Linked DNA regions of Homo sapiens: region 1 is linked to region 2. A link means that fine-mapping ties the variant in region 2 to the plasma level of a protein whose gene starts in the linked region. Region 2 holds a variant in brackets. A gene starts in the other region. All regions are shown on their forward strands. Region 1 holds the start of VAT1 (vesicle amine transport 1). Region 2 has its middle 7.3 kb from the start of PLTP.

The links. PIP is the chance, under the fine-mapping model, that this variant and not a neighbour inherited with it causes the effect. Protein levels are from antibody-based Olink assays in UK Biobank. Linkage for the fine-mapping came from a reference panel and not from the study's own genotypes, which makes the PIPs less certain.
Region 1: VAT1 starts here. The variant in region 2 is fine-mapped to the plasma level of the VAT1 protein (UK Biobank, PIP above 0.99).

What each region holds. Positions count from the first base shown.
Region 1 is chr17:43,020,134-43,025,442 of GRCh38, forward strand. It overlaps VAT1 (vesicle amine transport 1), which reads right to left and starts at 2,252. Exons shown (of 6, transcript NM_006373.4): 1 at 1,803-2,252. The coding sequence starts at 2,189. RND2 (Rho family GTPase 2) reads left to right here and starts at 5,098. Exons shown (of 5, transcript NM_005440.5): 1 at 5,098-5,309. The coding sequence starts at 5,215. RefSeq lists a silencer at 4,922-5,061.
Region 2 is chr20:45,916,808-45,922,176 of GRCh38, forward strand. No RefSeq gene overlaps it. Among named protein-coding and RNA genes, the nearest start is that of PLTP, 7.3 kb to the left of the region's middle. The variant C/T (reference allele first, on the strand shown) is at 2,524.

The DNA.
Region 1 (5,309 bases), not on the chromosome of region 2:
CTCACTTACCCTGGCTCATGCTAACCCTCAGGCCATCCAAATCAGGGCCATGACCCCTCCCCAACCCAGACACCAGGAAGGAGGAGGAGGGAGAGAGAGGGAAGGGCCCTCCCCGCAGAATCCAGGCTCTTACATCAGATTCTTGCCCTGGACAGGATATCCTGTATTTACCAGGCGGAAAGTGTATGGAGGGGAGGTGAGGTGGGTGGCCTTCAGCAGTAACATGAACTACAACTACCTCCCGAAAATATTCCTCTTAGACGCCTGCTCAAGAGTGGGATCATTTAGAAGTCAGTTTGAGGGTGGGGCCAGAGCTGAATTCAGAGGAAAGCCTTAAGGAGAAGCTGTTTGCATACAGGATGAATCCAACAAACCTGGCTCCAGAATTGGGCTGGCAGGTCTGCAAGAGGCTGCATCTGTGGGGCCTCTCATTGAGGGGTCTGATTTAAAAAGGAAACTCCTGGCCAAGCGCAGTGGCTTATGTCTGTAACCCCAGCACTTAGGGAGGCCGAGGTGGGCAGATCACCTGAGGTCGGGAGTTCGAGACCAGACTGACCGACATGGAGAAACCCATCTCTACTAAAATACAAAATTAGCCAGGCATGGTGGCGCATGCCTGTAATCCCAGCTACTCGAGAGGCTGAGGCAGGAGAATCGCTTGAACCCGGGAGGCAGAGGTTGCGGTGAGCCGAGATCGCGCCATTGCACTCCAGCCTGGGCAACAAGAGCGAAACTCCGTCTAAAAAAAAAAAAAAAAAAAAAGAAAAAGAAAAAAAAAAGAAACCTCTAAACAAATGGCGTGCTGAGGCCTCATCCCAGGTCTCTCAAAAAGCTGATCATTTTGAGCTCTCTGGTGTCCAGGGTTGTGGCCAAGATTAATGATAAATGAGAAGGAGAAACAGGCCTGCAGACTTGGCCAACCAGTTCAAGGCGCCGCACCTCTCCGTTCCAGTCCAAACCCCTGGCACTGGGGTTTCTGAAGTGGGGGTCCTCTGCAGGAGGAAGGCAGAGGTGGGTCCCCCCTTCCACTCCCCGCCCCAGGCATTCCCAAGGGCAGCCCCGGGTCGTGGCCCGAAGGCTGAGGGCTGAGTCACAGGAGGAGGAGATACTGCAGTCACGGGAGACACAGAGCCCAAGACAAAGATCGGATGACCCAATCCCGCCTCCCCCACCCCAAAATCAGATCGGCGGTGTAAGGCTGGTGGCGGTGGGGTAGCAAAGGCTCTCTCTCCTCCGTGATGGGCGTGTCTCGTCTCTTTGGCCTTGCTTTGGGAGGGGCCGCCTCACACCCCCACAGACCACGGGGCTGCATGTGACCAGGACTCTGGCACGGCCGCTGTGCCCCCGCCCAACCCCGACGACATAGCCCCTCAAGCTCCCTCGGGGAAAGGGGGCACTAACCGTCACTCATAGTCACAGACCACAATTACCCAGAGAGTGTTTGGTGGGTAGGGGTACAGGTGTGGTTTTAATGGGGGGGGGGGGGGGGGGTGGGGACGGTAGTGTGGTTGTGCGCATGCGCATGGGCACCTTATTGTTTTCCCCCCCACCAGCACAGCTTCTGGGCGGCGGCCACAACTAAAAATGGTTGGGGAAGGGGCGATAATTTCGTCTCCCCTCCCCACATAAATGCCGCTCTCCAGGAGCCCCCAAACACAAGTTCCTTGGCTACGCTTTCCACGCTCGTGCACCCAGGTCCGCGCCAGTTTCTCCCGCCCTGCCACACCCCCGGCGCTCGCCCACTCGTGCCCCACTGCCCAGTGGCCTGCGCAGCCCTGCCCTGCCCTACGCAACCCGCTCACCTTGCGGTCGCTGACTCCCTCGCCCACTGCGATCACAACACCCGCGCCCTCCATGCCCGGAGTGACAGGCAGAGGCGGGAGACGGTCGTACAGCCCCTGCCTAGCCATGAGGTCTGCGAAGTTGAGCCCGCAGGCCCGCAGACGCAGCGTCAGCTGGCCGGGCCCAGGGGCCGGGGGCGCTGCCGGCCGGCTCTGCAGCTTCACCTTGTCGTAGCCTCCAAAGCCGGTGAGCACTAGGCAGCGCAGCAGTGGCGGCGAGGCGGCGGCGGCGGCGGCCCCTTCGGAGGCCGCGGGATGCTGGGGGTCGCTCGCTGCCTCGGTTTTCGGAGGCGGCGAAGAGGCGTCTTCCCCGGTCGCTGCCTCGGCTACCTCTCTCTCGTCGGACATGGCTGGGACTCCCGACGAGAGCGCACAGCTGGATGGAGAGTGCACAGCTGGGGAAGGCGGAACGCGTCGGGAAGAGCCGCGGCTGCGGGATCCAGCGGGAGGGGCGGGGCGCCGGGCGAGGCGGGGCCTCGCGCTCAGCCTTAAAGGGCCAGGGCCATAGTGGCGCAAGCTGGGAGAGCACGAAAAGGGGCACCAGGAACGTCTGTGCTCTTGGGATCAAGCCGACTGTGATTTATTTATTCATAGTAAACCTTATTCAAATTAAAAACTATTTTAAGGGATAGGCCTGGCGCGGTGGCTCACGCCTGTAATCCCAGCACTTTGGGAGGCCGAGGCTGGTGGATCATTTGAGGTCAGGAGTTCAAGACCAGCCTGGCCAACATGGTGAAACCCCCGTCTTTACTAAAAATAAAAAAGTTAGCCGGGCGGTAGTGGCGCGCGCCTGTAATCTCAGCTACTTGGGAGGCTGAGGCAGAGGAATCGCTTGAGCCTGGGAGGCGGAGGTGAGCCGAGATCGCGCCACTACACTCCAGTCTGGGCAACAGAGTGAGACCCTGTTAAAAAAAAAAAAAAAAAGGGCCGGGCGGCGTGGCTCACGCCTGTAATCCCAACACTTTGGGAGGCCGAGGCGGGTGGGTGGATCACCTGAGGTCAGGAATTCGAGACCAGCCTGACCAGTATGGTGAAACCCCAGCTCTACTAAAACTACAAAAATTAGCCAGGCATGGTGGCAGGTGCCTATAGTCCCAGCTACTAGGGAGGCGGAGGCTGGAGAATTGCTTGAACCCAGGAGGCGGAGGTTGCAGTTAGCCAAGATCATGCCGCTGCACTCCAGCCTGGGCTACAGAGGGAGACTCCATCTCGAAAAAAAAAAAGGCCGGGCGCGGTGTCTCACGCCTGTAATCCCAGCACTTTGGGAGGCCGAGGCGGGCAGATTACGAGGTCAGGAGATTCACCTGGCTAACACGGTGAAACCCCGTCTCTACTAAAAAATACAAAAAATTAGCCAGGCGTGGTGGCAGGCGCCTGTAGTCCCAGCTACCTGGGAGGCTGAGGCAGGAGAATGGCATGAACCCAGGAGGCAGAGCTTGCAGTGAGTCGAGATCGCGCCACTGCACTCCAGCCTGGGCTACAGAGCGAGACTCCGTCTCAAAAAAAAAAAAAAAAAGTTAAGGAACAGTCCCAAAACTTGAACTTACATCAGATTTGGAGTTAACTCATATCAGATTTGGAGTCAGCCACCTGTGGACTGGAGTCCAACTACATTGTGTCTCAGGCTCTGACATCTAACCCAGGCAGGGATGAGACTTAATTCACTGTGGTCTTGCAGTGGCAAAGTAGAAGCATGGAGACCAAGCCTTTAAAACTTTCTGACTTTGGTGTTAACGTTCTGTTCCTCATTTTCCCTTCTGTAACATAGTGATGATGCTGCGTGCTCTAGTTATATTTATATTTTTATTTTTTTGATACAGGGTCTCACTCTGTCACCCAGGCTGAGCGAGGTGGGGCGATCACAGCTCCCTACAGCCTCAAACTCCCGGCTTCAAGCAATCCTCCCACCTCAGCCTCCTGAATAGCTGGGACCACAGGCATGTGTCACCACGCCCGGCTAACTTTATGTTTTACTGCTCTTTGCAGAGCAGGGCTACCCCATAGGCAGCGTGCCTAGAGTGGCCAAACCTAGCTAAGTTTTGATTTTTTTTTCTAGAGAGAGGGTCTCGCTAATGTTGCCCAGGATGGCCTCAAACTCCTGCACGCAAGCAAGCCTTGGCCTCCCAAAGTGCTGAGTTTACAGGCGTGAGCCACCGCGCCCAGCTTCTAGTTATCTTTACAGAATTATTTGCAGCATATATTATTGACTCGAATTGCCTCGATATAAAAAAGCACTTTTTTTTTTTCGAAACTCTATTGCACAAGCTGGAGTGCAGTGAGGCAATCTCGGCTCACTGCAAGCTCCGCCTCCCGGGTTCACGCCATTCTCCTGCCTCAGCCTCCTGAGTAGCTGGGATTACAGGCGCCCACCGTGCGGGTTTCACCGTGTTAGCCAGGATGATAGTCTCGATCTCCTGACCTCTTGATCCGCCCGCCTCGGCCTCCCAAAGTGCTGGTATTACAGGCGTGAGCCACCGCGCCCGGCCTATTGTCAGACTCTTAATCAAGCCTGACTTTTGGGTTTAGCTCTGGCTCCAGCAGAGCAACTCTGGCGGTTGGTTCTTTCTCTTCCTTATCTCCTTGTCCCCAAGCATCCACCAGAGGACGCAGCTCCCCCAAAACTTTCCACCCAGTGCTTGGCTGGAGGAACTCAGTCCACGCTTCTCTGCTAGTCTAGGCCGGCGGTTAAGTCAATGTAACCGGAGACCCGGCTGCCCGTTGCCATGGGGACGGAAAGCTATGATGTCACCACCGTCCGGGTGGGTGTGCTGGGGTTCACCCTCCCATTTCCCCAAGACCCCCTGCCAGGACATAGGCGGACGCGGGAGAGAAAACCAAAGAGGCTCCCTCCTTCCCCTTAGCATCTCTCTCCCGCCGTGTTCAGGAAGTGGATGGCTGCCCCAGCTCTTGTCCGCACTGGTACACCTGCGTGCACGCGTGGGTACACAGCAGGCCCGAGCTTCGCGCTTGTGCCGCTCATATTCTACCCCTAAGAACTTCGCTTGAACTCTGACCTGCCCTTATATCCGAGAAAGTCAAATAAGCCCAGTTCGGCCTGTCCCAAACCGGCAGGGGCCCCTCAGACCACACCGGCGGGCTGGACCCCGGCTCTGAGGCCTCTGTTCCCAGGGCTCCGCCCAGATCTTCTGGGCCCCGCCCCCCGGCTGCGGGGGTGGGAGGAGGGGCCGGGGGGGCGCGGCCGCCTGGCTGGGGGCGGGGCGGAGGGGGGGCCGCGGACCCGGGGCGGGGGCTCGGCGCGGGCCCGCGAGATGCCGGTGTTGGCGGCCCGAGCGGCTGCAGTTGCAGGGGCGGGGGAGGCGGCGGCGGGGCCCGGGAGAGGGGTGGCGTGGGGGACCGGCGCGTAGCCGGGACCATGGAGGGGCAGAGCGGCCGCTGCAAGATCGTGGTGGTGGGAGACGCAGAGTGCGGCAAGACGGCGCTGCTGCAGGTGTTCGCCAAGGACGCCTA
Region 2 (5,369 bases):
GCTCTGTCACCCAGGCTGGAGTGCAGTGGTATGATCTCGGCTCACTGTAAACTCTACCTCCAGAGTACAAGCAATTCTCCTACTTCAGTCTTCTGAGTAGCTGGGATTACAGGCGTGCACCACCACGCCCAGCTAATTTTGTATTTTTAGTAGTGATGGGGTTTCACATGTTGGCCAGGCTGGTCTCGAACTCCTGACCTCAAGTGATCTGTCCGCCTCAGCCTCCCAAAGTGCTGGGATTACAGGCTCGAGCCACCACGCCCAGCATTTTGTCTCAGTTTAAATGGCGTTTTTTCAGAGAGGCCTTCCCTGCCTGCCTATCTATTAATCGCTCTCAATCATATCAGCCTGGTTTATTTTCTTTATAGATTTTATTACTATTGAATATTTTCTTTCTTGTTTGTTGTCTGTCCCCGTGAGAGCTGGAATTTTGTTCAACACTGTGTCCTTAGTGCCTAGAACCATGCCTGGCACACAGTAGGTACTGACTAAATATTTACTGAGTGATTGAACTGGTTTGGAGTCCTTGAATGTCCCTGGGCAGCAGGCGATCCCTATGCCAACCCAGATCCTTTATCTCCTCCTGTACCATGTTAGCCTCAGTTCAATTGACCCTAAACACAGCTCTGACCGGCCGGGTACAGTGGTTCATGCCTGTAATCCCAGCACTTTGGGAGGCTGAGGCAGGTGGATCACCTGAGTTCAGGAGTTCCAGACCAGCTTGACCAAAACAGTGAAACCCCATCTCTACTAAAATTACAAAATTAGCCGGGTGTGGAAGCAGGTGCCTATAATCCCAGCTACTTGGGAGGCTGAGGCAGGAGAATCGCTTGAACCCAGGAGGTGGAGGTTGCAGTGAGCTGAGATCGCACCATTGCACTCCAGCCTGGGCAACAAGAGTGAAACTCTGTCTCTAAATAAATAAATAAATACAGCCTTGACCTGGGCTGGTGGAGGAGAAGGTGCAGTCACTGGCCCTGAATCCAGGGCCTTCCCCACTCAGCCTGTCCCTCTTTAATACATTGATTTCCCTTTTCCTCTAAAACATATGGTGCACACAACCCTCAAACGTTAAGAGTGATGTCAGCAGATGTGCAGCGTGGGATGGGCTCTGGCAGCCTCCTCGAGTGCTCATCACCGGGCTTGAGACATGGAGAGAGCCAAATCCCCAAATCCCTTCCCACTTTCACTCCTGGTTTTGTTGTTGTTTGTCTTTTGAGGCAGAGTCTGGCTCTGCCTATTAAGCTGGAGTGCGGAGGCACAATCTTGGCTCACTGCAGTCTTGACCTCCTGGGCTCAAGCAATCCTCCCACCTCAGCCTCCTGAGTAGCTGGGACTATAGGCATGCACCACCACGGCTGATTAATGTTTGTAATTTTTTTTTTTTGTAGAGATGAGGTCTCACTGTGTTACTCAGGCTGGTCTCCATCTCCTGGCCTCAAGGAATCCTCCCACCTCGGCCTCTGAAAGTGCTGGGATTACAGGCATGAGCCACTGCGCCCGGCCTCATCCCTGGCTTTGAAGAGAGAAGGAGAGGCTTCCCAGCACTCAGAGGGACAGGAAGGAAGTGCCTTTCCAGCCTCAGTTGTGTACCCAGCACAGCAATACTGGTAAGAAATCAAGATAGCAAAGTCCTGCTTCTGCCTTTTTCTAGAACAGATGTCAGCAAGCTGTTCCTGTAAAGGAATCAGGATAGCAAAGTCCTGCTTCTGCCTTTTTCTAGAACAAATGTCAGCAAGCTGTTCCTGAAAAGGCCAAAGTGTACATATTTTAGGCTTTCCACACCCTGTGGTCTCTATCGCAGCTGCTCAGCCCTACACTTTAGCATGAAAGCAGCCATAAACAATATCTAACGAACAGGCTGGGAGCTGGAGTTAGCACACAGGCCATAGTTTACCAACCCCTGTTCCAGAGGAAATGAAAAATCTCTTTCTGGGCTAGGCATGGTGGCTCATGCCTATAATCTCAGTACTTTGGGAGGCTGAGGCAGGAGGATTGCTTAAGCCCAGGAGCTCGAGGCTGTAGTGAGCTATGATTGTGCCACTGAACTCCAGTCTGGGTGACACAGCAAGATCCTGTCTCTAAAAAAAAAAAACACTTTTTGAACCTCAGTTTCCACATCTGTAAAATGGGATGATCTAGTACTTACCTACCTCCCTGGGTGGCAGTGAGGATTTAAAGTGATAAAGTATACAAAGTGTGGAACCTAGTACTTGGTGGCGGGGTGGGGCGCTCTCACTTTGTTGCCCAGGCTGGTCTAGAATTCCTGGGCTCGAGCGATCCTCTCGCCTTGGCCTTTCAAAGTTCTGGGATTACAGGCATGAGTCACTGTGCCTGGCCTGATTATTAGTATTAATAGTTGTCATAGTTGCTTAACAAACAGAAAGTGCTTTTTTGAGACAGGGTCTCACTCTGTTACCCAGGCTGGAAGGCAGTGGCACGATCATGGCTCACTGCAGCCTCATCCTCCCTGGGCTCAGGTAATCCTCCCATCTCAGCCTCCCGAGTAGCTGGAACTATAGG[C/T]ATGTACCACCATGCTCAGCTAACTTTTAAAATTTTTTTGTAGAGATAGAATCTCACTGTGTAGACCAAGCTGATCTCAAACTCCTGGCCTCAAGCGATCTGCCTGCCTCGGCCTCCCTAAGTGTTGGGATTACACGCGTGAACCACCACACTTGGCCAGAAAGTGCTTCCACATATTAACTCACTTACACTTCATAACATCCTACAAGATAGGTATCCTCACCCCCAGTTTACAGATAAGGAAACTGAGGCCCAGCAGTTATAAGCTCAAGTCAGTCTGGCCCCAGAGCCTATGCTTGTAACTAGGTTTCTCTCTCTGTCTCTCTCTTTTTCATTATCCCATGTAACTCTCACAGCAGTGCCTTGAGATAGCTATTATTGGCCCTGTTTTGCAGATTTGGAAACTGAGGTTCAGTACGAGGAAATAACTGGTCCAAGGAAGTAAACACGGGCTCCACTGACCACAGGAGGCCAAGCTGGATTGCTGCCCAACATGTCAACATGCACTGCTCTGGCCCCCTCCTCCCTCGCTGTGCCTCCAGCTGTGTTTTCTTTGGATCTCTGCATGGCTTGGAGAAGCTGCGTCAGCCCATCTCCTCTCCTGCCCAGTCCCCACCCCCAACGCCCACCCCAGCTACCCCTCAGGGAGTGACCCCCTTCTCCTCACTCTGCCTGAGCATATGAGCACTGCAGCTCATGCGCCTGTGTTGGTCAGCATGGGTGCACCTGGGGACATGTGACAGGGGACCCAGCTGGAATGAGAGGAGGATTATCTGAGGAGGACAAATCTCAGGCCAGGAAGACCCCGATTACATCTCTCCAGACAGGCGAAATGATCATCTGTTTCCAGAATGCAACTGGACAAAACAGTCCGCGTGAGGGCTGGACATTTACCAAATGGGTAAAAGGAATCTAAAAGGGCTGGGGCTTGCTGAGTTCAGCCAGGCCAAAGCTGTGGACTGACTTTCCGTGATTTCTAAAGCTGGGAGATCTGTTGTTTTCTTCTTTCTTTCCCATTTCCTCCTTGAAGGCCAGTCCATTTTCTGTGTGAAGAACAGGCCACTTGGTGTCTGAAGTCACCTCCAGATTAGAAACTCAAGGATTCTAAGGTTCCTTATGAGGTGTTGCTTTCCCTGGGTCCTCGGTCCTAGGGCATTGTATCCCCACACCTGGTGCCTCTCCATCAGGGCTCGGATGTCAGCCTTGGGCAGCTCACTCTCTCTCTGACTTCCCTTTTCTTTTCTTCTTCATATCCCACCCTTCTTCCCAGTTTCTATGCCTCTGTCAGTCTGCTAGCTGACTCTGACTCATGGGGACCTCTTTCTGTGGTCCTCTAAGCCTCCTAACCGTCTGTGCTTTCCTTATACTCCACGTGGGCTTTCCAGCCTCTACTTGTTTTGAGGAAGAGGTGGAGGATCCATAGCAGCTCTGTCTAGATGTTTGGATTTCATAAGCCAGTCACAACATTTCAAAGTAAGTGAAGGGAGGGGGCCCCAAAGGAAGGGATTTTTTCCTTTGATAATAAGGATAGGCCACCATCTTCAGCCTAAGCTTGTCCCTTTTCTGCAGGGCTTGCTGAAATGTTGCAAGAAGTGGTCAACATAATGCAACTCGAATTTTTCCAGGTGTCCTAATACTGCAGGAGTCCCCCGCATAACCCAGGCTTTGGTCTAACAAGATTGCCAACCCCTAGCCAGGAATCATGAGGATGTCACCGCCCTCTGGCCTTCTTCCTCTCTTCCACCCAGCTAGATCCATATTTTAGCTCCCCCCCAACCCTAGCAAGTACCAAATCCTGCTCCTTTTCCAAGCTTCCCCATCACAGGTCATGGCACCAGCTTTATGCAGTGCTCAAGTCAAAAATATAGGAGTCATCCTTGACTTCCTTTTTTTGTTATACCCCACATCAGCAAATCCCGGTGTCTCTAACTCCAAAAGACGCCTCACCTTATGCCTGTAATCAAAGCACTTTGGGAGGCTGAGGTGGGAGGATCACTTGAGCCCAGGGGTTCAAGACCAGCCTGAGCAACATAGTGAGACTTTGTCTCTACAAAAAATAATTAGCCAGGTGTGGTAGCATGCGCCAATAGTCCCAACTACTTGGGAGGCTGAGGTGGGAAGATCGCTTGAGTCCAGGAGGTCAAGGCTGCAGTGAGCTGTGATTGCGCCACTGCATTCCCGCCTGGGCAACAGAGCGAGACTCTGCCTCGAAAAAAAAAAAAGATGCCCCACATCTATACAATTCTCTCTATCAGCACCAACACCACTTCAAGCCATTTTCATTGGTTACCGGGACAACCTGCCTTATCTCCCTGTCTCACCATTTCTCCTGTAGGTCTAGCCTCTCTACATCAATCTAAGTGATATTTTTAAAAATGGGAATCATAGAATTTTTCTATCCTGCTCAACATCCTCCCCATCACACACAAAATAAAACCCAGACTCTGGCCACGACCTCTGGAAACACTGCAGGTGAACTAGCTCCTGCCTACCTTCCTCTCCAAGCCCATCTTCTACCACTGTTGGGAACACACCAAGTGCCTTCAGCCTCAGACTTTCCTTAATTCTTTTCTCCACCAGACACATCATCCCACACACATACCCATGCAGAGTTACTCAGATCCCTACTCAAATGTCACCCCCACAGAAGAGGCCCCCTCTGTGTCATTACCTGTCATTCTGTTTGTTTAATTCTTTATTGCCTGTTTCTTCCAGTAGACTGCAAGCTCCCCAGGGCGGGGACAGGAGCCTGCCACTCTTATTCATGGCCATATGTCCAGTGCCCAGCACAGGGTCTGGCACACAGAAAATGCTCAATAGATGTTTGTTGAATTCAAGATGGCCGG